5 separate regions of the Homo sapiens genome follow, and regions 2, 3, 4 and 5 are each reported to be linked to region 1. The links are microRNA targets in miRTarBase. Many come from high-throughput screens and were not tested one by one. Region 1 holds a microRNA gene; each other region holds the end of a gene's coding sequence.
Evidence for each region. The annotated mature microRNA hsa-miR-4725-5p reads AGACCCUGCAGCCUUCCCACC and lies in region 1 at 1,738-1,758, shown strand. An mRNA with a match to its seed (bases 2 to 7 or 8) in the 3' UTR can be bound and repressed. Matches are read on the target gene's strand: a 7mer-m8 pairs with bases 2 to 8, a 7mer-A1 pairs with bases 2 to 7 and ends in A, and an 8mer does both.

Region 1 (5,105 bases):
CCTCACAGTCTGAACTGGAAGGAGCGTGGAGTGTTGGGGAGAAGATGCAGTGTCAGTGCCCAGGGTGCAGCGAGGCACGGGCTGGCACCCTGACCCAGCCCCCTTCCCAGAGGGGAAGAATTCGCTATGGCCCAGCCCCTGCCCTTGGGGTCTGAGGGGATCCACTTTTGTTAGGAGCCTGCTACACACTTTGCTTTCTTTCGATCCTTACATTGCCCTTCCAGGTGGGCTTATTATTCCTATTACAGATAAGAGAGCTGAGGCTGGGAAGCCGAGTAATTTACACAGGGTCAGGTCATACAGCAAGTTAGCAGGTAGTGGTGCCAGCAGCTGGCTGTCTTTTGTGGGGATGTGTTTTCACCACAGCGGTGGCAACCTGTGTCCTGACAGGCCAGGTTCCTGCATGGACAGTGGGGCCCCCAAAGAGCAGGTGCAGTGCCAGGCTGGACAGATTCCAGCTGTGCCGGGGCCTTGGGCAAAGTGGCCTGGCCTCAGGAGACACGTTTCCTGTTGCTGGGTGACATTCCACAGGTGGGAGGCACATGCAGGACCTCATTCCCTAGGGGCCTTCCTGGTCTGGGCCCTGATGCCCTGACGCTGGGGTTGACCCTCTACTGCCCTGGAGGCTCACCTGGGCCTCGGGACAGAAGGGATTGTCCCATTAAGGAGAATCCTCTACGAGTCTCTGATTCTGGAAGCTCTTGTTTTTTATCCTCCCATACAAAAAACAAATTGGCCACCAGTCTCTTCCCTTCTTTTTGGCCACTGTCTCACCATCTCCTTCACCCAACCTTGGTTTCTTTCAGCCTGTGCTTCCCAGCAGAGCCTGTGGGCTTGTTGATTTGAACCCAGAAACCACCTAGGACATTCCAGAGGTCTTCACACTTGTCTTTGTTGCCCATTGTAGGCCGTTTTCATAGAAGGGTATTGGGAGGACCTGCCTTCCCACTCAGGCCAATGTGAAGCTGTTGCTCTTTTGCTAAGGGCAGGGTGGGATATGGCCGAGAATTGGTGGGCGGGCCTGAGATCCATTCAGCAGCACCCCAGGGCGTGCTGTTTCTCACAGGTTGCAGCCTCTTCCAGCCCCTTTGCTTTCTGTGACAGAGCTGAAAGTCTCATTTCCTCTTTGGCTTTCCCTTTGAAATGGGAGAGAGGGTGGTGGGAGCTTAGCTCCTTCCAGGCCCATTTTACAGGCAGAGTAACCAAGGCCGCGACTGCTGGAGAGAAGCGGAACCGGAGTTCCCGTGCCCATTCCTGTTGGAATCTCCTGTCTGTGTGCCGTTCTTTAAGATGGGCTGGAGAGAGTCGGGGCAGCTCTTCTCCCGGGTTTTCAGGCCTGGGTTGCTCTTCTGGGCACTTCCTGGTGTTTTCTTCTCTTTGCCTGAATCAGGCCTGGCCTCAGGCCTGGTTACAAGAAGGTTGGAGGCTGGCTGTCTTGTGTTCATGTGTCACGCCAGGCCTGAGACCATCATTGTCTCTCTGAGATGGTCCACGCCCCTCCTGTGAACACAGGGGCTACAGACTATAGTATAGTTCTTGCCACGTTCCCGAGTTTTGGGGGCTGCTCTCCACATTGGGATTCCACCAGGATGCTGGTCTGCAGTTTCCTGCAGGCAGAAGGCGCTGGGTTCTGAGTTGGCTTTAGGTGGAACCCAGGTCATTCCTGGGTATGCCTTGGGAGGGCGGCGAGGCTGGCCGCAGCTGGGCCCGGCATCGGAGAAAATTGTGTCTCTCTGGAGACCCTGCAGCCTTCCCACCCACCAGGGAGCTTTCCATGGGCTGTGGGGAAGGCGTCAGTGTCGGGTGAGGGAACACCAGCTTCACCTCGGCTCATCTGGGCGTGGCAGACGACTGCTTCCTCACCTGGAGAGTGTTCAAGGACAGCAAGAAAAATGAGGGACTTTCAGGGGCAGCTGTGTTTTCTGACTCAGTCATAATGCCCCTAAAAATCCTTATTGTTCTTGCAGTGTGCATCGGGCAGCGGCCAGCAACCTGCCTCTCACCCACCTGGCCCTTCTGGGAGGACCGGGACTTCCTGGGGTCAGATTGGAATGTACGTCCAAAATAAGAGTGAATGGGGATTTGCTGATTATTAAAACAATTTTGTTTGCGTGCATTTTTAGCATCTTCTCTTCTGGTGGAGGATTGGAGTGGCTGAGGGTCGGGAGGGCTGGACATCAAGATATTCCTGTGCAGGTTGGAGCCCAGGAGGGTGCAGGAACTCCCTGGTTTGTGTGCAGTGAAGGCCTGGAAGAGCCTAGCTGCACGTGCAGTGCCCAAGGAAGGTCATCTTCCGGGTCAGTGATGTTAGAGGCAACAGAGTTGGGCTGGACAAGATGCCCCCCAACCTTTCCTGAGAAGTTGAGGCAGGAGTAGAGGAGGCATCTATCTGCGCAGGAACTTGCATTGTATTTTAAAATAGAAGGCAGCCTGGCCAACATGGCAGAACCCCATCTCTGCTAAAAATACAAAAGTTAGCCGGGTGTGGTGGTGTGTGCCTGTAGTCCCAGCTACTCGGGAGGCTGAGGCATGAGAATTGCTTGAGCCCAGGAGTTGCAGGTTGCAGTGAGCCAAGATTGCACCACTGCACTCCAGCCTGGGCAACACAGTGAGACCTTGTCTCAAAAAATAAATAAAATAAAATAGAAGGAGCCTCAGAATCCACTGTCTGTCTGAGACCCAGTGAACTAGCCATTTTGAAAATAGAACAGTGAATTGAGGGTCTTTCCCCCTCTACTGTGACCCTGGAGCTTGCTTTTCCTTGACTGAAAGTCCTCCATCCTTATTTCACTTCATGGATCTCCTCCATTCTCAGCAGGTCTCCCTACCCCTGCCCTATCCAGCCCCACCCTGCAGATACAGTCATGCACTGCCTAACGATGTTTTGGTCAACGAGGGACCGCATGTAGGACAGTGGTCTCATAAGATTATAACACTGTTTTTACTGTGCCTTTTCTGGTTAGGTACACAAACGCTTGCCATTGTGTTCTAATTGTCTACAGCATTCAGGATAGGAACGTGCTGTACAGATGTGTAGCCTAGGAGCAATGGGCTCCCCCACCTAGCCTAGGTGTGCAGCAGGCTATTCACCATCTAGGTTTATGTAAGCACACTCTGTGAGGTTGGCACAATAACAAAATCACCTAACAATGCCTTTCTCAGGATGGATCCCCGTTGTTAAGTGACACATGACTCTATTTTGACCAGCCAAGGCTTTTGGAGGTCCTGGGGGATTGTCGAGAAGCAGAAATACCTTTTTTTAAATTATTATTATTATTTTTATTTGTTTTGAGATGGAGTCTTGCACTGTCGTCTGGGCTGGAGTGCAGTGGCGCGATCTCAGCTCACTGCAACCTCCACATCCCAGGTCAAACGATTCTCCTGCCTCAACCTCCCAAGTAGCTGGGATTACAGGCGTCTGCCACTATGCCCAGCTAATTTTTTGTATTTTTAGTAGAGACGGGGTTTCACTGTGTTGGCCAGGCTGGTCTCGAACACCTGACCTCATGATCCACCTGCCTCGGCCTCCCAAAGTGCTGGGATTACAGGCATGAGCCACTGCGCTCGGCTGAATCCGATTTTTCTGAGACCTATTTTTTTATTTTTTATTTTTTTGAGACACAGTCTCACTCTGTTACCCAGCCTGGAGTGCAGTAGCTTCATCACAGCTCACTATAGCCTTGACCTCCAGGACTCAAGGGATCCTCCCACCTCAGCCTCCCAAGTAGCTGGGATTTACAGGCACCCACCACCATGCCCGGCTAATTTTTGTATTTTCAGTAGAGATGAGGTTTCACCATGTTGGCCAGGCTGGGTCTCAAACTCCTGACCTCAGGTGATCCACCTGCCTCGGCCTCCCAAAGTGCTGGATTACAGGCATGAGCCACTGCGCCTGGCCAGAAATACTTTGTTAAATCAATTTGTGATATGCCTGCCTTCCCCAACAATGCCAGTCCACCAAACCCGAAGCAACAGAATCCTGCTCTCCAGGGGAGACTGGGCTGGTGGCTTGCAGTGAAGGACAGGTGGGGAGATGGACAAAGTGACAAGCAGGACTCTGCATGCCCCAGTGGGTCCACTCTATGTCTTACTGCCCTCATGGGTCAGCAGGGGAAGTTTACCCTTGAGGTATTTCCAGGGTCTCTAGGTGCAGCTCAAAAGCTCTCGTCACTGGAGGAGATGACCACGTGTGCTCAGCATTTGCAGAAGTCCAACTGCCACGATCTTCCCTGCAGCCCAGCCCTGGCTCCAGTGGGCACTGGCCGGTGCTACTGTGACTACCTCCACATGAGCTCTCCCAGAGACAGTTTTGAAGGAGCTGGGTTTGCTCAGGAGCCTTGGCTTTTTTCTGCACAGGGCAAGGACAGCTCCAAGGTAAAGTTTAAACATGATGGCATTTATCCTTTCTTGGTAAGGGATAGGTGGGGCTCCCATGAAATGCTATTCTCGCAACCTCCAACGGACAGGGGTGTTGCAAAGGTTCCTTCATCCCCGATCAGCTTCCCTGCCATTTGCTCCCCTCAACCATCCCCTCCCATGGGGCCCCTTTCTCCTGCCCTTCATTCCCCTGAACCTCCTTGTTCTTACATGTGTTCCTCATTCTTTTTTTTTTCCTTCTTGACATAGAATCTTAACTCTGCCACCCAGGCTGGAGTGCAGTGGCCTGAACCAGGCTCACTGCAACCTCTACCTCCTGGGCTCAAGCGATCCTCCCACCTCAGCCTCCCGAGTAGCTGGGACTACAGGCGCACACCACCATGCCTGGCTAATTTTTGCATTTATTGTAGGGACAGGGTTTTGCCATGTTGCCCAAGCTGGTCTCAAACTCCTGGGCCCAAGCAATCCTCCTGCCTTAGCCTCCCAAAATGTTGGGATTATAGGTGTGAGCCACTGCACCTGGCCAGTTCTTCATTCTTTACCACAAAACATTTGCAAAAGATAATACATCAACTTTTTTGGTTTTTTCTTTTTTTTTGAGATGGAGTCTCACTCTGTCACCCAGGTTGGAGTACAGTGGCACAGTGGCATGATCTCGGCTCACTGCAACCTCCGCCTCCCAGGTTCAAGTGATTCCCCTGCCTCAGCCTCCTGAGTAGCTGGGATTA
Region 2 (5,105 bases), not on the chromosome of region 1:
ACACACACATTCAGGACACATTCAGGGCCAAGCTGGATCTCAACAAAGACAGCCAGGATCCACAGTTCATGGGAGACTGGAAACTACTCATGGACAGACAGGAGATACCACTAGACATGGCCATTCTGGTTATGGACAATCCACACAGACAGGTTCCAGATCTAGTAGAGCAAGTCATTTTCAGTCACATAGTAGTGAAAGGCAAAGGCATGGATCAAGTCAGGTTTGGAAACATGGCAGCTATGGACCTGCAGAATATGACTATGGGCACACTGGGTATGGGCCTTCTGGTGGCAGCAGAAAAAGCATCAGTAATTCTCACCTTTCATGGTCAACAGACAGCACTGCAAACAAGCAACTGTCTAGACATTGACAGTTATTTTCTAGTTCTGACCTTATAGTATCCAAAGCAACTAAAAGAACAGGAAGACACAGTTTAAATCATGAACAGTCAATGGTAAGTTATGAACATTCAGTTGATTCTCAGTATCAGTCTCGACCTATTATTATAAGAAGTCAGGAATCTAGTCATGGACATTCTATAGTAACTCATAAACAGTCAAACAACACCTATGTTCAACCTGGATATAACACAGCCAGAAGGGAGGGATGTACACATAGCCAGTCAAATGACCACCTTGGATTTGGCCATGGACAATCCATATCAGTTCATGGCCATTCAAAATCTAGTTCAATCAGAAAACAGGAATCCCATACTGATAACAAAAAGCATTCAGAAGATTGGGAGAAAGACACTCATGAGCAATTAGGATCTAGGCATGGGAAGTTAGAGTTCAATACAATAGGTATACATGGATCTAGCCAGCAACATTTCGGAGATACAACTTTTCATGGGCAGGTAAGATCCAGCACAGGTTTTGCCAGATAGGTATTAAGTCATGGGCCATCAAGAGATGCCTAGGGTCAGTCTGGATTCAGTACCAATGAAAGACAAGTATACAGCCATGGCCAATCAAATGATAGTTATGAGTAGTCAAATGACAGCAAAAGTCAAAGATACATTTTCAGTCACTTTCTTGACAGCCAAGACCCTGCAGGAATTGAAGAGTATAGGTATAGATATTCATCAAGCAGTGCAACCATATGCAGTGGGGGAGACAAAGGCAAGAGTCAGAGTCAAGTCTGTCAGGAGGTATCAGAATATACGGTGAGGATGTGGGCAAAAAACAAAGAGGCTCTGAGGCCAGCGGTTACCATACAAAGGAAAGAACAGGCTCTGGTTCCTTCTGCTTAGATAGCAACACCCCACTCTATGAATATGTCCAAGAACAAAGGAGTTATTACTTTGAATAAGAAGCCAACATAAACTAGCCCAAGATAAGAACTAACCCAGAGAAGAAATGAGACACATACATGAAATTAAGGTATTTAACATGATCTCCTCTTTTGGTAGTAAGGGTATATGTCTGTTCTTTCATTTTAACTATAGTTCTGTACTATATTACTTTTGTTTGGTGCCAGGTGTTTTTGTAAGGCTCCACATTCATTGAACTCCTTGGTTAGAAAATAGTGAATGAGGCCGGGCGCGGTGGCTCACGCCTGTAATCCCAGCACTTTGGGAGGCCAAGATGGGTGGATCACGAAGTCAGGAGTTCGAGACCAGCCTGGCCAACATAGTGAAATCCCGTCTCTACTAAAAATACAAAAATTAGCTGGGTGCAGTAGCGGGCACCTGTAATCCTAGCTACTCAGGAGGCTGAGGCAGGAGAATTGGTTGAACCCGGGAGGCAGAGGTTGCAGTGAGCCGAGATCGCACCACTGCACTCCAGCCTGGGTGACTGAGCAAGACTCCACCTTGAAAAAAAGAAAGAAAGAAAATAGTGAATGGAAGAAAAAGATAAACACCATTTGGGGCTATATTCAGAACTATATAATAAAGAGAGATTTGTGTGGTTGGGAATAAAATTAGGTTTTAAAAAAATTTCCGAATTTCAAAATTTGGATTTTCCAGATTTTGTTTTAATTAATTATTGACAAACCTATCCAAGGAGCTAAATGACGTGGTTTAGGAGCCAAAACGTCTCTAGAAACATTATAACACATCCCATCCTGAACAAAGAATGTTGTCATAGTTTCCCACATGAATATTCAGAATATTTGCATCTTTTTGTGTCACTACTGGAATTCTGTACAATTATATTTAAATTTATTGTCATGGCCTTCTGGATATAGGATCCAGAAAATTGTACTTCATAAAAATTGGCAATAAACATTTCATCAAGTTATAGTTTCTCTTCTCTTTCATCTCCACAAACACATAGTTTCCTGCCATGGGATCAGATGCAGTTTTCTTCCACCTCCACACAGCTAGATGGCAGTGAAGCACTCAGGTACTAATAATAAGGACTCCAAAGAAGACAAAACTCAACCATATCTGATCTTTTCCTCAATCTAATCGCTGTCCAATGCTTCTGTAAAGCATTTACAGAAAGGCTTTATACTGATGAGTTGACCTCAGATGTTCTGGTTAATCATGATCATCACAGCAATTATTATCAAACATAATCCCAAGAAGCTACTTTCTAAGACAACCCAAGCTCTGGAAATAAGAATTATACACCATGGATTTTCTCTGTCAAAGATATTAATGGAAGAATCACTATCAATAGAAGCTAATTGGGTCCAGAGGTTTCCAGTAGAAGAAAAACAGTTAAAAATATATTATTCCTGCCTATAAGGAGAAAATACATGAATTTATTATGAATAGTGAGAGAAGTAATGATGAGTAGAAGAATTATGTACAAAATGCACTATCCTCAGTAGAAAGTTTACTACTATAAAACCCAAAGAAAATGTGCAGACTGTCAGAACTAGTAAGAACTTTAAAGATTACTTCCTTAATTTGGAAGTTAAAATAAAAAAGCCAAGCACACCGCATTTAATTAAAAGAGTGATAATTCTCACCATTAAATTTGGTGCTATCCAAATTTATCCTCTTTTCACTCAAAAATCAAGCTACTTTTCCTCCACCTTCACTTTTGGAATTCAAACTAAACTGAAATTCATCAGTGAGTGTTCAAAATCACAAGTCCCTATTAGAAGCAGAAGTTACATGAAAACAACAACAACAACAAACAGGCTCATTCTTCTGATTAGACTCAGAATATATCTATCTAATCTAGTTTTTAAATTGTAATATTAAGAAGGACTTGTACTTTATGAACTTTAAATCGTACTATGTAATCAACATAACACTAGTCTGTTAGTTTGCTAGTGAAAAAGCTACTGTTATACTATTAATGATACTCAGCAAAATTACTGTGTATATAGGAGTTAACGCTAGTAACCAATTCATACCAATCTATCTATCACCATTTATTCACTGAATATAAATACTAATTATCAAAGAACAATTAGAAATTTAAATTTGATATTTAATCTCTTTCTATTATAGATAAAGTAAGTCTATACCTATAATAAAAAGAGAAATCCATAGATTTTTATCCTACCTCTGCACAGCTAGATGGCAGTAAAGTAAATCTATGGATTTACTTTATTTACAATAGAAGAGATTAACTTGCTAATTGGAAGTGCTGCTATGACCAAGGTATAGGTTTCTGATTCTCAAGCCAAAGCTCTCTCTCGTGTCAGGGCGTCTGCACTCATTCCATACATCTGTAATTCCATATTCTACCGCTAGACGGCGGTGAAACACTCAGATACTAATGATGAGTCCAAAGAAGGTAAAACTCAACATCTGATCTTTCCCTCAATCTAATCACTGTCTAAAGCATTTACAAGAAAGAAAGGCTTTATTCTCTAAGTATACGTTTACAAATGTCTAAAGTTTCACTGGTATCCTGAATAAACGTTAATGTGCCTTTATTGTATGTGTGTGTAAATATGTATATGTGTATATATAAATATATAGGTTATGTACATAAATGACCCCCATAATCCCTTAACCACACCCATTTGAAATTTAAATGTAATATATTCCACATTGCTAAAACTCTCAATAATATGTTTTAATCAAATAGGGGGCAATTGTTCCTTATAAATTACACCAGAAGTATTAAATAACTCAAAAAGAGTTACACATCTCCCTTCTAAGATAAAAGGAAAGATAAAAATGAGACATCAGGTATGGTCTACAAAGAAAAAGTTCAAAACTGGGGTGCCCCCATGTGAAACCTCTGTGAACAGTTGAATTTCTTAGATGCTAGAAAGAGAAGTGTCATAGGTACATACCGTTAGATATTTCCCCTCTACTACCATCTGTGTGCTAGCAACCTGTAGGTAAAGCATTTCTGTGCCAAGAAATACCCAGTGATGTCAAACCATGGCTGAGACTGTCATGGAGAGTACATGGCACTGAAGAGGAACTCTGGGTGGCCAAAATGGGAGGAAAGAAAGATAAAATTCCTCTTCTTACAAACTTTCTAGATAAAGATGACCTTTGGATGAGGGAAATTGAAGGTCAGTTTGTAGCAGACACACTGCATGCACTTGCTGTTCTGTTAGAGTGTAATACATAGTCCCTGTGTTCCAAGAGTCCTTGATAACCAGAGAAGACTTTCTAATACTACATGCTGAGTACAACCTTTGTGGAGCACTCTAACACAATCAAAGGTGGGTATGTAAACTGTGGGGAAATGAGCAAGAAAAAGTAGAAAATCTTTAAAAAGTAAAGATTGAGGCAATTCTGGATTTGGTTGGAAATTAATCAAGCGAGCAGACAGAAGCTTCCTCTCTAATAATGATTTGACACAATTAAAAGGCCACTAACTCAGGCTTTGAAACTGGTTTTAAGCAACATCTTACTGAATCTTTGGAAAACATGGTAAGTGAAAGTGAGTGAAACTCTCCTTAAAAGTGCATAGAATTACCAGTAGAAGTTCACAAGTATATTTTTTGCATTATAAAGCCATCTAACACAAAGAAGTATGAAATTTGCAAGGAAAAACATGTTCATTTTCTAAAGATTGTTTAGATATGTTAAGTTGTCTCATATTATTCTTTTCATTTCCCCACAATGTACAATTAATAAAAATCTTATGTTGTCTTACTTTCTACAAATAAAGTGCAGTAATTAGGAAAAGGATGAAATGGAGGAACAGCCTCTGGTTCCAAATCACTTAGAT
Region 3 (5,105 bases), not on the chromosome of region 1:
AATGCCCCCAAATGACATCTCTTCTTTCTATTTTTTACCTCTACTTCCTCAATAATGGCTACATTGTAAGATAGTGCTCACTCGGTGGTCTCTGGTGATTGCTGGCACCTCCTAGGACTTCAGCTTTGCAGTTCAAGTAGAGAAAGAAAAAGAGAATCTGCTTTTTGGTATCTCCAACAAAAGTTCTGGAATAAGAGTTGCACTGGTACTAATTGTTCTGATTTGAACTGTGCATCTACTTTAAAATTAATCACTTGCTGGTGGAGGAGCAAGGGAGAGTGTGTGTCAATATGCTGATTGGTGTTAGTGATTCTCACAACTACAGGGCTGGTTGGGAAGATTATTGGTTGGCAGGGGGAACTAGGAATTGGATGCTGGAGGAGGGGCTACCAAATGTCTGCAGGAGCCACTAAACACTCTGGAGTCTAAGAATATGAAGAACAGGAGGATATTTCCTTATAGTGCCCAAATAAAGCCAGCCAGAGGGTAACACCCCTATATTCACCTTTGAACTTCTATCTTTCTCAACAGATCTGGCAGTTCAGCAGCCTCTTCTCCAAAATCAAGAGCTGGGAGTTTAATGAAGTCACCTCCATGTCTGAGCACCTGAAGTCCTGTCCTTTCAACATTGTAGAGCACAAAACTGACCCGATTCTTTTGACTAGCATGTGTCAGCCCCGTGAGCAGGCCCGAGAGAGCTTAGTCTCCACCTTTAGAATCAGACCACGAGGAAGATACGTCTCCTAAAAATTCAGATGCCACTCGATGCACCCTTCTTGGATTTCTTCTCGGAGTTCCTGAAGTAGGACAGAGTGTGTGGTTTTGAGGACTCCCTTCTGTAAACTGCCTATTTGCTTATCGGGGTGTATTGGAACACGCAATGTCCTTCGAAACCTCAACACGAGGCCTAAGAATTTCCTAAGCCATGTCTTGTACCATAGTGCCACATTGATGACTTGTTTCCTTTTTTCTTTTCTTTTCTTTTCTTTTTTCTTTCTTTCTAAAATAGATTGGTCTGAGAAGAAAATAAGTAATTTGAGGCCATTTGGAAGATGGGCCCAATTTCTTAAGTGATGAGAGAGCACGAAATTCCATAACCAGTACAGGCCTGTGCTTTTACATGGGCTTTTTAGTTCACAAAGCACTTTCAAATTTATGGGACAGGAAATGCAGGATGGGACTCCCCAGGGAACGCAGGGTGAAGGGAACAAAGCTGGAGGCTCTGGAGCTGGGTCTGTTTTGACGGTCAAGTCCAGGGCTCATTTTGGTTATTCTACTGCCTCTAGGCCAGGGTAGTCCTAACACAGCCTGACATAGGAGAGCCCCTGGCTGAGCATGGCAGCCTTGAAGACACCACAGGCCAAAACATGAGGGGCAGAAATGGGATCACAGAGTCTGTTGCTAGAATCTTGGCAACATACAGCAGGAAAGCCTTGATAAATCGGGAGTCCAAAGGAGACACCATATTTATGGAGAACATTAGGACAAAAAGTCACCAACTTACTTTGTAACATTTTAATAATGACTTAAGGGTCAAGATTTTTTTCTTCTGAAAATTATGTTCTGAGTTAGGCAGAACATAGCCATGGCCCTGGGCCACCCTGTGCTATCTGAAATGACCTCAATACACTAATGCCAACCTCAGCGTCATGCCAGAATGCACAGGGCAGCCCAGGGAGATCACACCTTTGGCAAAGTCCAGACAAGGCCCACTGCAGTTCCTATGGCGCCAGTCACCAGCTCCTAGACAGCACTTGGGTACCCCATTGGGGTCTTGGAGAGGAAGACATGTGAACATAACGGCTCCCTGAAATTGCTCCTACCCATCCATATTTCTGGTCATGCTTTCAGTCTGACAAAAATGGATGATACTGCTGTTTTTGGTAACAAACAGTGAATATTCATAAGAACAAAAGTAAAAGAAAAAAAGACACAGTAGAAACTGGCATCCCCTAAAGCAGGGCTTCTTAGCCTTGGAACTATTGACATTTTTAAATGGATAATTCTTTTTTTTTTTTTCTAGGTGGGGAGGGGATGGAGTTCACTCTTGTTGCCCAGGCTGGAGCGCAATGACATGATCTCGGCTCACCGCAACCTCCGCCTCCTGGGTTCAAGCGATTCTCCTGCCTCAGCCTCCCGAGTAGCTGGGATTACTCGCCTGGCTAATTTTGTATTTTTAGTAGAGACGGGCTTTCTCCATGTTGTTCAGGCTGGTCTCAAACTCCCGACCTCAGGTGACTCGCCCGCCTTGGCCTTCCAAAGTGCTGGGTTTACAGGTGTGAGCCACTGCGCCCTGCCTGAACTGGATAATTCTTTGTTGCAAGGGACTGTTCTGTGTACTACAGGATACTTGGCAGCATCCTTGGCCTATCCATTAAATGTCAGTAGCACCCCCACAGTGGCAACAATCAAAAATGTCACCAGACATTGCTAAATATTGGGGAGCAAAATGGCTCCCCGTTGAAAATCCCTAAAGGATGTCATACTAGTGACAATAAGTTAGGATATGCTTATTTTTTAGTACAGCAAAATCTTATCGCACATAGCTATCCACAATAGTTATGATTTAATGCAGCTCTTTATTTATGAAATAGGTTTTAGACATGTGGTGATTTTAAGTTGGGAACCAGAAGGAAATGATTCGTTTGGTATGGCTTCATGTCCTTCAGCCACCCCCAAGAATGTATCCTTTCAGCTCTCTTTGGTTATACCTGAAGCCAGGAGCGTTGAGTTATTAGCCTTGTGTTTATATTCCTCTCACTGTAATTGGTGTCATTTTCCCAGCAGTCCTAGCAGTCCTCAAGCAAGTGGGAAATCGGAAAAGAAAAGGACAGGCATTGTAGGGAAGCAGAGGATAAAGAATTTAGCCAACAAAAGAAACAATCTAGTCAATCTGGGTGCTTTTATTTCCTGGGTTCTCTCTAAACATGGCTCAGAGCTGGTGTAGATGAAGTAGGTGAAACCTCTGAAAAGAGTCTAGAAGGCAGTAGAGCAAGTCCCAGACCAGAAACATGCTCATCTTTTCATCGTAATGTGCCACTCGGTACTATTTGGTAATGTCACTCTATTTTTCCTAATCCCATCCTTTGGTTTGTATTTCATATTTGTATATAAGGCACCATTTTCTAAAAATATGACTAGGGTGTGACCTAAGGTTTTATTCTGTGAAGATGAGTAACTGGAAAGAAGCTAACACTGCAGTGGGAAGGAAGGAAGAGAGTTGTCCAGGTGGTAGTTCGACGTGTTTTGAATCTAGTCCTTCCTACATGGAGGATAAAAGCTCCTAAAGTCCACTCTGGGTTTGTGATTTTAATAGAAATAGAAAGGGAAACTATAGACCAATGGAGATGAAAATCAGGGGCTATCGACAGATGGAGGAGAAATAAGGTGCTACATAGAGAAAGGAAGAGGGCAGAAGGCTTTCCCTTCCCAAACTGGGTGAGCTGGGGAAGCCTTGGTTCAGGAGAGTGGCACTGCCCACAACTGCTTTGTGGGTTGTGCACTTCCAGCCGCACTCTCCCCCTCCAGTTGCTGCCTTCAGAGCCGTACTGAAGCACGAGCTTCAATAAGACAAGCACACTTCATAGTGAGAGGGCAGCGGTACCAAAGCCTTTCAGAGAGACTATGGATTAGACAGAAATGATTTGTGAGAGGAAGCTGGAGTGAACAGCATGAACAGCGAGTGTTACCTGACAGAGGCAAGACAGCTAGAAGTGGCTTCAGATTTAGAAACAGCTGAGGGGAGCAAAGACGGACTGTGTACACAGGGAGGGAGGATGTCTATGGGCAGAGCCCTTGGTGAGTATCATCACCAAGAAAGGCAGTCCAGAGTAGAGATCAGCCGAATATGGAGGCTGAGGTCTGTAGAACTGGGCCAGAGAGGACCTTACTGCCTTAGTAGCATAAGGGTCTGGAAAAGAAGTTTCTATCTCACAACAAAGGAAAAAGTGAAAAGCAAGGTGGAACTTGAAGATACGTCACGAAAATCACTATAAAAGTCTGATTTATGTGTGATGTCAAATCAAACTGAAATGAAGAATGAGATTGAGTATATCTGTGGTGACTGACCTCTGTATACTAGAAACCTCAACATCTCTAGAAGAGGAAATAAAAGCTGCTTTGCACTCTGAAAGGCTAATTGGGTGAATCTTATAAGTTAGGTCTAGAGACAGATGTGTGATTCACAGGCATAGAAGTTGTCGCTGAAACCAAGTGTGTATCATGAAGAAAGACCAGAGCACAAGCCTGAGACCAAACTTGTCCAACCTGCCTTATTGTGTTGTTGTTCTGTTTTGTTTTGTTTTAGGCTTTTAGCAGCCTGAAGCCATGGTTTTTAGTTTCTGTCTCTAGTGATAAGCAGAACAGAGGAATGACAAAGGGGCTTTACTGGCCCAACCAGAAACAGAAACTATGAACCCATGGCTGAATTCTCTCCCTTGGACACCCTGCTGGGCAGCTCACCAACTCTATGAAGCCCTGGAGCAACTAACTGTGGGTCTTAGCAACCATTCTAGCTCCTCCTTGATCCCAGTGCCTTCTCCATCTTTTCTTTCTTTCTTCTTTTTTTTTTTTTTTTTTGAGACAGCTTCTCACTCTGTCGCCCAGGCTGGAGTGCAGTGGTGTGATCACAGCTCACTGAAGCCTTTACTTTGACTTCCCAGGCTCAGGTGATTCTCTCACCTCAGACTACTGAGTAGCTGGTGCTATAGGCCCACAATACCATGCCCAGCCATTGCTCAGGCTGATCTGTTTTGGACTGGGTTTAAAATGCAGCCTAAGGAGGCCAGGTGCAGTGGCTTATGCCTGTCATCCCAGCACTTTGGGAGGCTAAGCGGGGGGCGATCATCTGAGGTCAGGAGTTCAAGATCAGCCTGGCCAACATGGGGAAACCCCATCTCTACTAAAAATACAAAAATTAGCCGGGCATGGTGGTGCACGCCTGTAGTTGCAGGTACTCGGGAGGCTGAGGCAGGAGAATCTCTTGAACCCAGGAAGTGGAGGCTGCAGTGAGCTGAGATCACACTGCGGCACCCCAGCCTGGGTGACAGAGCAAAACTCCTTCTCAAAAAAAAAAAAAGTTCAGCCTAAGGAAAAGGCCTAGTCTT
Region 4 (5,105 bases), not on the chromosome of region 1:
TGTAGCACTTTGATATTCCCCTAGTCTTGTGACATTGTTACTCTGGTTCTATAGACCCACTAGTTAGATCACTAAAATCACTTTTAGATATGAGCTGCCACAGAGTAATGTAGTTTAATATAAACAACAATGTAATTGTGATGTCAATAAGTTCTTTACTTGTGGCTTAATAATTAAAAAATAACAATATACTTTGAATTATATTTATCACGAGTAAGACTATAAAAATGCATAAAAGTATGTTTATGTGTTTTTTTTCCTTCTACAGTGAGAAAGTCAACAAAGGAATTGGCATTGAAAATATCCATTATTTAAATGATGGGCTGTGGCATATGAAGACATATAAATGAGCCTCAGAAGGAATGCACTTGGGCTAAATATGGATATTGTGCTGTATCTGTGTTTGTGTCTGTGTGTGACAGCATGAAGATAATGCCTGTGGTTATGCTGAATAAATTCACCAGATGCTAAAATTCTGTTAGCTTCAGAAATTATTTTAAGTTTTCTTAAACTCAAGTTAAAATTGGGTAGCAAACTTGGACATTAAAAGGTATCTGGTAAGTAAGCAAACTCATACAACTAATGTCCTTTCTTAGGCTAATGATATAAGAGTGAAGAGCAGGACTTGGTCAATGGATTGCCATTTTATGGTAGACCTCTAGAGAAACTGTCTAGTTAAATGGGGCTAGAAACTAGACTAGGAATTTTATTCTATTACTCCAGGGGACCCAGCAGTGCTCATTCTCGTGTGTGTGTGTGTGTGTGTGTGTGTATGTGTGTGTGTGTGTGTGTGTGTGTTTTGTTGATTGTTTTTTTAAAAAAAACTTCAATGGAAAATTCTAAACATATTAAGAAGTCTGGAGAATAGTATAATGGACCTCTCCATATCCATCACCCAGTTTCAGTTTATGGTCAGTCTTATTTCATCTATACCTCAATTATTTCTCCCCACCCCCCAATTATTTTGAAGCAAATCCCAGACATCCTATCATTTCATCCATAACTACTTTATTCTTTTTTTTTTTTTTTTGAAACAGGGTCTTGCTCTGTTGCCCAGGCTGGAGTGCAGTGGTACGATCTTGGCTCACTGTAACCTCCACCTCCCGGGTTCAAGCGATTCTTGTGCCTCAGCCTCCTGAGTAGCTGGGATTACAGGCACGTGCCACCATGCCCGGCTAATTTTGTATTTTTGGTAGAGATGGGGTTTCGCTATGTTGGCCAGACTGGTCTTGAACTCTTGGCCTCAAGTGATCCGTCCCCCTCTGCCTCCCAAAGTGCTGGGATTACAGGCATGAGCCACCGTGCCCAGCTAATTTTTATATATTTTATAGTTGGCCAGGCTGGTCTTGAACTCCTGGCCTCAAGTGATCAGCCTCCCAAAGTGCTGGGATTATAGGCATGAGTCACCATGCCTGGCGTCATAACTACTTTAGTGTGTATCTTTAAAAATTAGAAAAACCCCACAATACCATTATCACACCTAAAAAGTTGAACTGTTTCTTAATATGATCAACTGTCTAGACTGTTAATTCTCTTTAACTGTTGGTTTGCTTGAAATAGGTACCACACAAGGTTCATACATTGCATTTGGTTGTTATTTATTGAAGTCTGTTTAATTTATAAGTTACCTTTTCTTTTCCCCCTTAAATTATTTAAGAAATCTAGTTGTTTTGTCTTTAAAGTTTCCACACATATTCTGGATTTTGTTGATTGTATCACTGTGAAGTCATTAACTTGTTTTTATGCCTCCTGTATATCCTGTAAACAAATAAGATTGATCAGATTCAGGTTCAGTTTTTTTAGTGCCTTCTTTTGAGTAAAGTCATACCAAACAGATGCCCAGAACATCTGGATTTGGGTCCCCACTAGACTCCTTAAATAATGTATATCTTCTATAAGTGGAATATGAGGGACATGGACCTGCTTTAGTAAGAACAGTAATCTGTTTGGGGAGTTAAAAGAGCAGTTGTGGATTTATTTATTGATAAAGACCATTTTTCTTCCTAATAACCTTGCTGTTATTCTAGTGTCTTAGCCATCTTCATTTGGTTGTTTACCAATATATGACATGTGATTTTATTTTTCAGATGGATACAGACATATACAAGATTGTGGTGACCTGTGTTACAGTTAGAAGTTGGTGAGAAAGGTGAGGGTGGATAGCAAAAAGAGAGAGATCATTTGGCTGGCTGTTCCAGCTGGGTCTCCCAGGATGTAACATAGGTGGACATAGATCCAGGGTCTGACCCTCAGCTTGAGAAACCATTTCCCACTGATGAAACTTGAGAGACTTGGAGATTCCCCAGTTAGAATATAAATGTATTAATTCATAGTGATAGGTCTGCCTATGGTAAACAATTAGGAAACAGGAAGTTACTTGGTAAACACAGGTATGAGCAAAGGAAGATTGATAAATTGGGGTAATATTTCAGTTGTGCTGAGGTAAGACTTGGAGAATTTTTCCTGCTTCATCATTAATTAGAATGCTTATCTCTGCCAAAATCTCATCTCTTTCCTAGCCCATAGAGGTGCCCTGATATTTTATTTCCTATATCCTTTTCAAGTTCCATGTAGTTTTCCTTATGTTATGACAGTTTTATTCTGCAGCTTACCATATTATTTATTCCTGGTCCACGAAAGTATAAATAGTCTCATCAGGAACTCATTTGTAAGTCATCTCCCAGGGGGGTTTCTTCAACAGATAGTTTAATTTTTTGCTGACTTACTGGCTTCAAATTCAGATGTCTCCCTATTTGGGGGAGGAGGCACCCTATTTGAGGCCTGTAGCTCCTTATGTTCTTAAAAAGAATATACAAGTCATTTATGTCAGAATCAAACTTTGAACCTTTATTTTTGTTGCTAAGAGAATGTTTTTTGACCAAGACTGCCTATGGAGTATTAGCAATGAAAAACAAAGCACACATATACATACATTAGAGAAGTAAAAACTTTTAATAGCTTGGTTTTTGAAATAATTCATCTTTGTGTCTAACCACTGTTACAGTGGGTGTAAGGAACACTTTTTAAATATTCAACATCAACATCTGTGCTTGTTTTTCTACTGTGCTGAGGTACACTGTGTTGCCTTGGTGATATGGACTAAATATGTATGTTCTCTGCTTCCCCTGGGTCTGAGGCCTCTGCTCATCACTGTTAATCAGGGATGTCACTCTACATGTGTGATCCTTGTCATTTTCTAAACATTAGGTCATACATGAAAGGCAATTCAAAGAGATTAAACTAGCAGATGTGTCAGCATCTTTAGATACTGTGCTTAATGGAAACTTAGTTTACCTATATTCGTGAGAATAGGAATACAGGGATAGAGAGCCTGCTTCTCTCAGGCAGTGTGTCTTTAGTTCATTTTTAGTTTCAAAATTAAGTTTGTGTCAAACCAACCTACAATCTAGTAACTTGTGTATTGGACTCACTTTTACTCAGACAAGGTCAGTTCAGCTCAATAGGTATTTATTGAGTATCTACTAGGTTCTAAGTGACGTGGCATGAAGATGAATAATACAGAAGTAGCCCTTGCTCTTAAGGAGCTTCCAATCTAGTGAGTAAAGAAAATTTACATTTTAAATAATCTGGGTAATGGTGACAGCCCAATACTAATATGTAAAGCCAGTAGGAATGTACTAATCCTTTTCCAATTTTAGTCATCAAAAATTGTAAATTACAAATGAACTAAATGTAGTAATATTCCATAGATTGTATCCAATGTGAGGGTAAAAAAAAAATCCCAGATGTCTTGGAGTTGCCGTGATTCAGCATCCCAACTCAGATGATTGTCCTGTTGTCCGGTGACATAATGGCCTGATCAGTTCTCTTCTAGCAGACTGTCTGTTATGGTGGTTTGGTAGTGGTCTGTTGGGAAGCTGCATTTTTCCTTTTCTGTTTTTATGCTCTGGACCCCAAACAAAAACAGCTGGATTTATCCCATGGGTAGTCATGAACATTTCCAATTTGAGGGATTTTATATTCCCCAAACAGAAGGTTATATGGCATATATCAAATAATAATGATATCCAGCCAGGTTCCCTGTCGTACCCAAATCAGTAACTGAAGATACGTATTTCTAAGTATAATACTTCAGAGGAAGAGATAAGAATTACAATTCACTAAATTCGTGGAGGTGTTTCATTATAATAAATATGTCACTTATTAATAATGTAGCAATTATATATTAATGGAAATATGAATGTATGCCCAAGCAAAATGTCATAAATATTTTAACTTTGTTTGTCTAGGTTCCTTAATTTTGAGACTATAATTATCAAGGCTCTTCAAGAAACTCAAAATGATTCTAATTTCTAAGTAGTATGCATTAAAACTGATATATAATGAAAGAAAAACAGTGAAAATGTATGCATCAGTTTCTAAAGAAATCATACTTGTCATTGTAGAGATGCATGTAAATTAAATGTATTATACATTTTTATACTTGTATGTATTTTATACTTTGTATGAATACTTTTATTACACTTTTTAAGGCAGGTAAAAGAATGAGTAGATGTTATCAACTATAACAACAATTTGTTGAATACTGTGTTAAAACCAAGTAAAGGACCACAACTCCACGAGATCAGGAATGAATGAAGAAAATTGAGGGCCAGTTTTTAAATCATTGTTGAGACTATTAGGTTCATCTGTCTGTTTAAGAGTCTGGCCTTAGGGAATATAATTTATGCATGTAAAAAAATACAGGAGATGATTCACTGGAATGTCTCTTAATAATACCATGTTCATTAAGAATAGGTCATTGGGAGGAAAAATAAATAAAAACATCTGAACTCATTAGTATAATTAATACTTGCCTCTTAGAATGAAAATTAAAGAACTCCAAATTTTAGCCTTGAATACTTTGAGAAATAAAAGATGAATTAGTGAAATAATTTCTACTTAAAATCTTAGTTGTTACAGAGAATGACATGCCTCACTATTAATGTCCAATTCTAATTAATGGATTGTTTTAGAAATGTATTTGTGAAATATAGCAAACATAGCTAGTAATACTAACAGGTGAAAACTGATATTTCAAATGACTAAATAGACTTAAGATTAGAGGAAGGTAGGAAAAGGTGTGCAACTAACAGAAGCAGTTA
Region 5 (5,105 bases), not on the chromosome of region 1:
GAGGAATCGTTTAAATTCTCTTTCCTAATTTTCTTTCTTTTGAAGATAGATTCTTTCAACAAGTAATTTGTAGTAATGACTGTGTTGACTTCAATTTTGGAGCGCAGTAGCTATGTTAAAGATGAACTATTTGGTCTCATTGAAGCCAACACAGAACTTGCTGCTGTGTTTTTTCTTCAGTGATAAATAAAATACTTACAGAATTTGTTTTAGTGTTGATTTGTGGTTATAGTATTTTGTTTATAATGGTAAGTTTGCATATTCAGTTGAGTTTTTTTTACTTGAATTTTTATCAGTGCCATTAAATGTCTGTGTTTAGTATCAATGAAAATGAACCTAAATATAACAAAGAAAGCATATGTGGCTAGGATGTCCCCCTAACATGTCTTCCTTTGTTAATGCAGGAATTCCTTAGTTTCCTTGTAACGCTGTCCTCTGAGTTTGTGTGTGCATGTGCGTGTTTGAAGTACCACCTTGGGTTTTCACCTGAAATTAGAAAAATCGTAGTTAATTTGAGAAAATGTTACAAATTCATCATGGCTGTAGGCACTTATTTCTGTTATTGAGTAGTGGTGAGAATTCCTATTGGTACAGCTGTAGGGCCAGAAGAGGGAGTATTGATGCTTTTTAACTTAACCAGATGCAGCTATTTTTGTTTGATGTTACCAATGATAGAAATCATTTTAAACACCTTAGTATCTGGTATTTCAAATACGTAGAAGTCTTTAAAGGTCTTTCGTGGGGAGAAGGACTTTTCTTTCATAACAAGAGAATTTCAGATCAGTGATTACAAGTGGGGCAGTAACTTGCTAAGAGTTTGCTTCCTGGAGAGTAGATCTGTATGTGTGACATCACAGGTAAGCCCCAAGAATTTATTTAATCAGATTTGTTCAGACGAGTTACTGCTGCCTACGTTAGAGTTAGATTTCAAGGCGAGTCAGCAAACCCATCCTTTCTGCTCAGTCTCCCGTACTGTTCTCCCAAGTTCTTTGTTCTGGGAGTCAGAACCCAAGTGCAAGAGGAGGGCAGAAGAGTCTGATGCTGTTACTTTGCGATCCTGCTCTTGGTTTCCACTGTCCAGGCCATACAACTCTGTCTACTCCCATTAGTATTTACCAACAGGTGTTAAAGGAAAGCTGAACAAGCAGCCTACTCACCGATCTGCTAGGTGGTCTTCCATGTTCATGGTGGCTTCTGCAGTTTCATTGAGAGTAACATTGCTGTTAATACAGATAGATCCAGTAGTAGAGACATCATCGGTCCAAAAGACTTTGCATCTCATTAGTTGTCCATAGTGACTACCAGGAGGTGGCTGGCATCTATAACGTGTGGGACGTTTTTATGTAAAGAACTGCCTGTGTTTTTTTTTTTTTTTAACCAAAGACACTGACCATAGATTGACTTATACTTTTATAAGTCTAATTGAAATACTTGGGGTACTATGAAAGGACTGTTCCTTGAGTGGCTACGATTAGAAAATCAGGACTAACAAACTTTTCTTTGTCTGGAAGCATATATATTTGTGATATAATTTTAATATGTATAATTTTGGTTTAATAAATCAAATCTATGACAAAAGTTGTTCTCATCAAAGCTAATAATTCTGCAACTTCCAAAAAGGACTTTGTAGGAAAATTAAAATACAAAGAAAAATAAAAGCCACTAGAAATTTTAAGTCTGTACAGAAAAGAACAGGTTAAGACAATCTGTACCTCTACAGTTGGAGAAGCCCTTTTGACTCTTCCCTGTATTGTTTTGCTACTAGGCAAGTATGCAGCATGTTCTTATGAAGATAATTTTGTCATACTTTGTATATTTCTTAAACTTTGAAAAATTGGGTTTCTCTAAATGTAATTTTGCAAAATGTTTAAAGTTCCACATTGAGTTCCAAGGATTTTTAAATGAATGTGTTTACATATACTTTTCATAAGAGAACCCTAGAAAATTAACTATAGTAATACTCTGCGTTTTAACTCCCAGTATTCATTGTCAGCTGGAAAACCTAGGCAAATTTGGCACAGGGGCTGAACATGGGGTACTTTTTTTCTTTTTTGGAGACAGAGTCGCTCTGTTGCTCAGGCTGGAGTGCAGTGGCGTGATCTGGGCTCACTGCAACCTCCGCCTCCTGGTTTCAAGCAATTCTCCTGCCTCAGCCTCCTGAGGAGCTGGGATTACAGGCGCCCACCACACCACCCGGCTAATTTTTGTATTTTTAGTAGAGACGGGGCTTCGCCATGTTGGCCAGGCTGGTCTCCTGACCTTGTGATCCACCCCCGCCTCGCCTCCCAAAGTGCTGGGATTACAGGCATGAGCCACCACACCCGGCCTGAAAATGGGGTACTTTAAAAATAGATGAATAGTGGCTGCCTGAGTAGTGGAGAGGGTCTTCTGGATTCCTTTTCCAATACTCTCCTGCCCTCAAGAAGCTCCAGCTCAATATGTTCTTAGTTCTGGTAAAATAGCAATGTCAGAATATCAAATTAACATTAGGCACATCTCATCACAGTGACTCCCATATATTGAGGCTATGCCAAAGCCCCATGCTCAAGACCTTTGGAAACCGTCTGTAATTTGACTCTGAAAATACAAAGTAGCTAAATTGATCTTGCCACCTGGCTAGCCCTTTTGGCCTAGAGAATGCGCTGATCTGTTCATAGTGGTCCTTTTGAAAAGGCAGAACACGAGCAGTGAGAGAGGTAAGAGGATTCATGTTGACCTTAGAAACTTCACCCAGAAGGTGAAGCTCATTTAAACTGGTAGATTTTCTATAGCAAAAGAAAGGAGAACAAGTAATTACATGGTTTCATTAAGCTACTTAATTTAGGCCCAGTCAGATCTGCAGTTCTCTCTGGTCTGGGGTTAAGACTAGCAGCGTTGGATTATTTGTCTTTCCTGGCTAAGAAACATTGTGCTTTCCTCCTGCCCCCCAAGTTCTTGAAATGCACCTTTTCTTTCACCAAAAAGACAGCTATCGGGTATTTACCCCATCCTCTAACACACCTTCAAATGAAGGTTCCTGATTGAGTCAATTTGCTGTGGATGAAGTTAGCTGTTTAATGCGAAAGCAGTCTAACTTCTAGTAGCCTAGCTAAATCCTACTGGGAGCCTTATACACGTAGACTAAACTCTTGCTGGTATCTTCAGATAGTAATGCATTTGTGTATTTCAGATGAGTTCATCTTAATTCACTTCCATTTTTTGCCTTCTATTGCCTTGCTTGGCAGGTAGCTGCATTCCATAGTGTGGCATTCAGTATGGTGGATTTAAAAGTGAGGGTGGGAGGGTAAAGTAGGGGTTAGGAACTTTTGCCCAAGGATCAGGTTTAGTCTTGCTTATGGGTAAACTGGTGGGGTTCCGGAAACCGACATGGGTCTTCCAGTAGGAGTGGGAACACATGAAGGACCCCCAACAATTCCTTTAATTAGTGCTTATTCTAGTTTGAGCACTGCCTGTATTAAAGTCAGACGCAGCCCACGGTGGAACCTTCTTGAATACGAGTTAATACACGAATAGCTCAGAGCTAGAGATCCATCTTCTATTTGTTTGACAGGCAACAGCTGGAATGGGCTTTCCTCCACTAGGAACCCTGAAATTGAGTAATCTAGGGTGAATTAATACTGCTGTCTTCCCTTCCTCCCTTTGATCTTAATATCATAAACGTTTTTAAAGAACTGGAAGAGGGTGAGTGTGTAGAGAAAATGCCAAGTAGGAAAGTTACAGGTGAGATTAATGAATTCATACTGTTACTGTATAAATACACAATTTTTTTAAACAGCACCATTTCCAAGTTATACACAATATGATTATGACTTGGCACAACTTTTAAAGGTGGAAAAGGCTAGTTGCTAGTTCAGTAATAAAATACCTGGTACATAGAACGATAAGGAGCTGTATTCTACCTGCTACACATTGTGCATTTTACACCTCCAGCTAGGACAGAAACAAGCCACAAGCGGGGAATACCCGCCCAAATTAATACTGGAAAGTTTACAAAACCTTCACTTCTCATAAGGGTGATGCTACCAGCGGCTTGCTTCACCTGGAATTAGAGTAACTGATTTTTAAAGACAACTGAGAATATTAACTCGCTTCAAACAATAAAATAGTCATTTTGCCGACATTTCATAAAATCGCCAGTTTTAAGCTCAGTTCAGAGGCTTTTAAAAAAATATTCTAGACCTAGTAAAGTGCCTCCATTCATAAAATGAAACATCCAAGATTGAGACAATTTCATACTGATGCGCATCTAAAATAGGTCGACGTATACAGTAAATAAACAGCGCCTCTAAGTTGCCATATTTCAGTTAGTGGAATACACACCCAGCCTTCGCCGTTCTGGATGTGCAAACTAGAAACTGAAGACAAATGGGGATTTCAGCGTCTAGTCCCAATCGTTCAGCACGGAAGTACTCCACACGGTCGGCTGCTTTTCAAAAACCACCAGGACGACGTCCCATGTCGAGCCGACCGCTGAGCCGCACGCCTCCCCACGGCGGGGGCGAGATGGTGCGCAGACCTAGCGGTGCGAGGGGCGGCGGCGACCCTGGGCGGCCGGGAGCCCGGGCCTTCAGCGCAGCTTCTTGCCAGGCGGGCCGTCCCTGGCGCTGCGGGGCGGCGGGCGGGCGGGCGGCGGCGGCACTTTGGAGAGCGGGCAGTACTTGATGGTGTGCGCGTTGTCGCCGCTGGCGCCGCACAGGGGACACGTGTAGCGGCGCAGCACGGGACACAGCACTCGCCCGTCGGGGCCCTTGAGGATATGGGTGGTGTAGAGCGCCATCGCCTCCTTGTTGTTCCGGCAGAACACGCACACCTGCAGCTCGGGCTTCAGCAGCCGGGCGGCCGCCGCCCCGGAGGCCGCGTGCAGCCGGGGCTCGGCCGCCCACGCCGGGGCCCGCTCCTCGCGCGGCGTCGCCTCGCTGGTGGTGGTGGCGGCGGCGGCGGCGGCGGGCGCGCAGCCCAGCAGCACGGCGGCGGCACGACCCGCGAACGGGCTCAGCTCGGCGAAGCGCTCCTCCAGCAGCCCGGCCTCGGCGGGGCCCGCGCACAGCTCCAGCGCGCGCAATTCCAGCGCGCTCCCCAGGTAGCGGCCCCGGGACCCCGGCTCG

Region 2: miRTarBase lists FLG2 as a target of hsa-miR-4725-5p. Seed matches in the 3' UTR shown: 7mer-A1 at 921-927.
Region 3: miRTarBase lists FBXO40 as a target of hsa-miR-4725-5p. Seed matches in the 3' UTR shown: 7mer-A1 at 1,530-1,536.
Region 4: miRTarBase lists MCTS1 as a target of hsa-miR-4725-5p. Seed matches in the 3' UTR shown: 7mer-m8 at 1,035-1,041 and 7mer-m8 at 2,237-2,243.
Region 5: miRTarBase lists NANOS1 as a target of hsa-miR-4725-5p. Seed matches in the 3' UTR shown: 7mer-m8 at 4,540-4,546.

The regions. Positions count from the first base shown.
Region 1 is chr17:31,573,544-31,578,648 of GRCh38, forward strand. It overlaps MIR4725 (microRNA 4725), which reads left to right and starts at 1,726; the gene lies at 1,726-1,815. MIR365BHG (MIR365B and MIR4725 host gene) reads left to right here. Exons shown (of 3, transcript NR_186556.1): 3 at 1,968-2,116. It overlaps MIR365B (microRNA 365b), which reads left to right and starts at 1,868; the gene lies at 1,868-1,978. RefSeq lists an enhancer at 1-442.
Region 2 is chr1:152,345,878-152,350,982 of GRCh38, reverse strand. It overlaps FLG2 (filaggrin 2), which reads left to right. Exons shown (of 3, transcript NM_001014342.3): 3 at 1-2,248. The coding sequence ends at 373. All of the region lies in intron 7 of CCDST (cervical cancer associated DHX9 suppressive transcript), which reads right to left. Among named protein-coding and RNA genes, the nearest start is that of FLG2, 12 kb to the left of the region's middle.
Region 3 is chr3:121,626,164-121,631,268 of GRCh38, forward strand. FBXO40 (F-box protein 40) reads left to right here. Exons shown (of 4, transcript NM_016298.4): 4 at 532-4,132. The coding sequence ends at 747. Among named protein-coding and RNA genes, the nearest start is that of HCLS1, 32 kb to the right of the region's middle. RefSeq lists enhancers at 4,672-4,821, 4,862-4,911.
Region 4 is chrX:120,611,915-120,617,019 of GRCh38, forward strand. MCTS1 (MCTS1 re-initiation and release factor) reads left to right here. Exons shown (of 6, transcript NM_014060.3): 6 at 269-5,105. The coding sequence ends at 350. Among named protein-coding and RNA genes, the nearest start is that of MCTS1, 10 kb to the left of the region's middle.
Region 5 is chr10:119,030,143-119,035,247 of GRCh38, reverse strand. NANOS1 (nanos C2HC-type zinc finger 1) reads right to left here. Exons shown (of 1, transcript NM_199461.4): 1 at 1,518-5,105. The coding sequence ends at 4,568. It overlaps EIF3A (eukaryotic translation initiation factor 3 subunit A), which reads left to right. Exons shown (of 22, transcript NM_003750.4): 22 at 1-1,578. Among named protein-coding and RNA genes, the nearest start is that of NANOS1, 3.0 kb to the right of the region's middle. RefSeq lists a silencer at 4,463-4,762.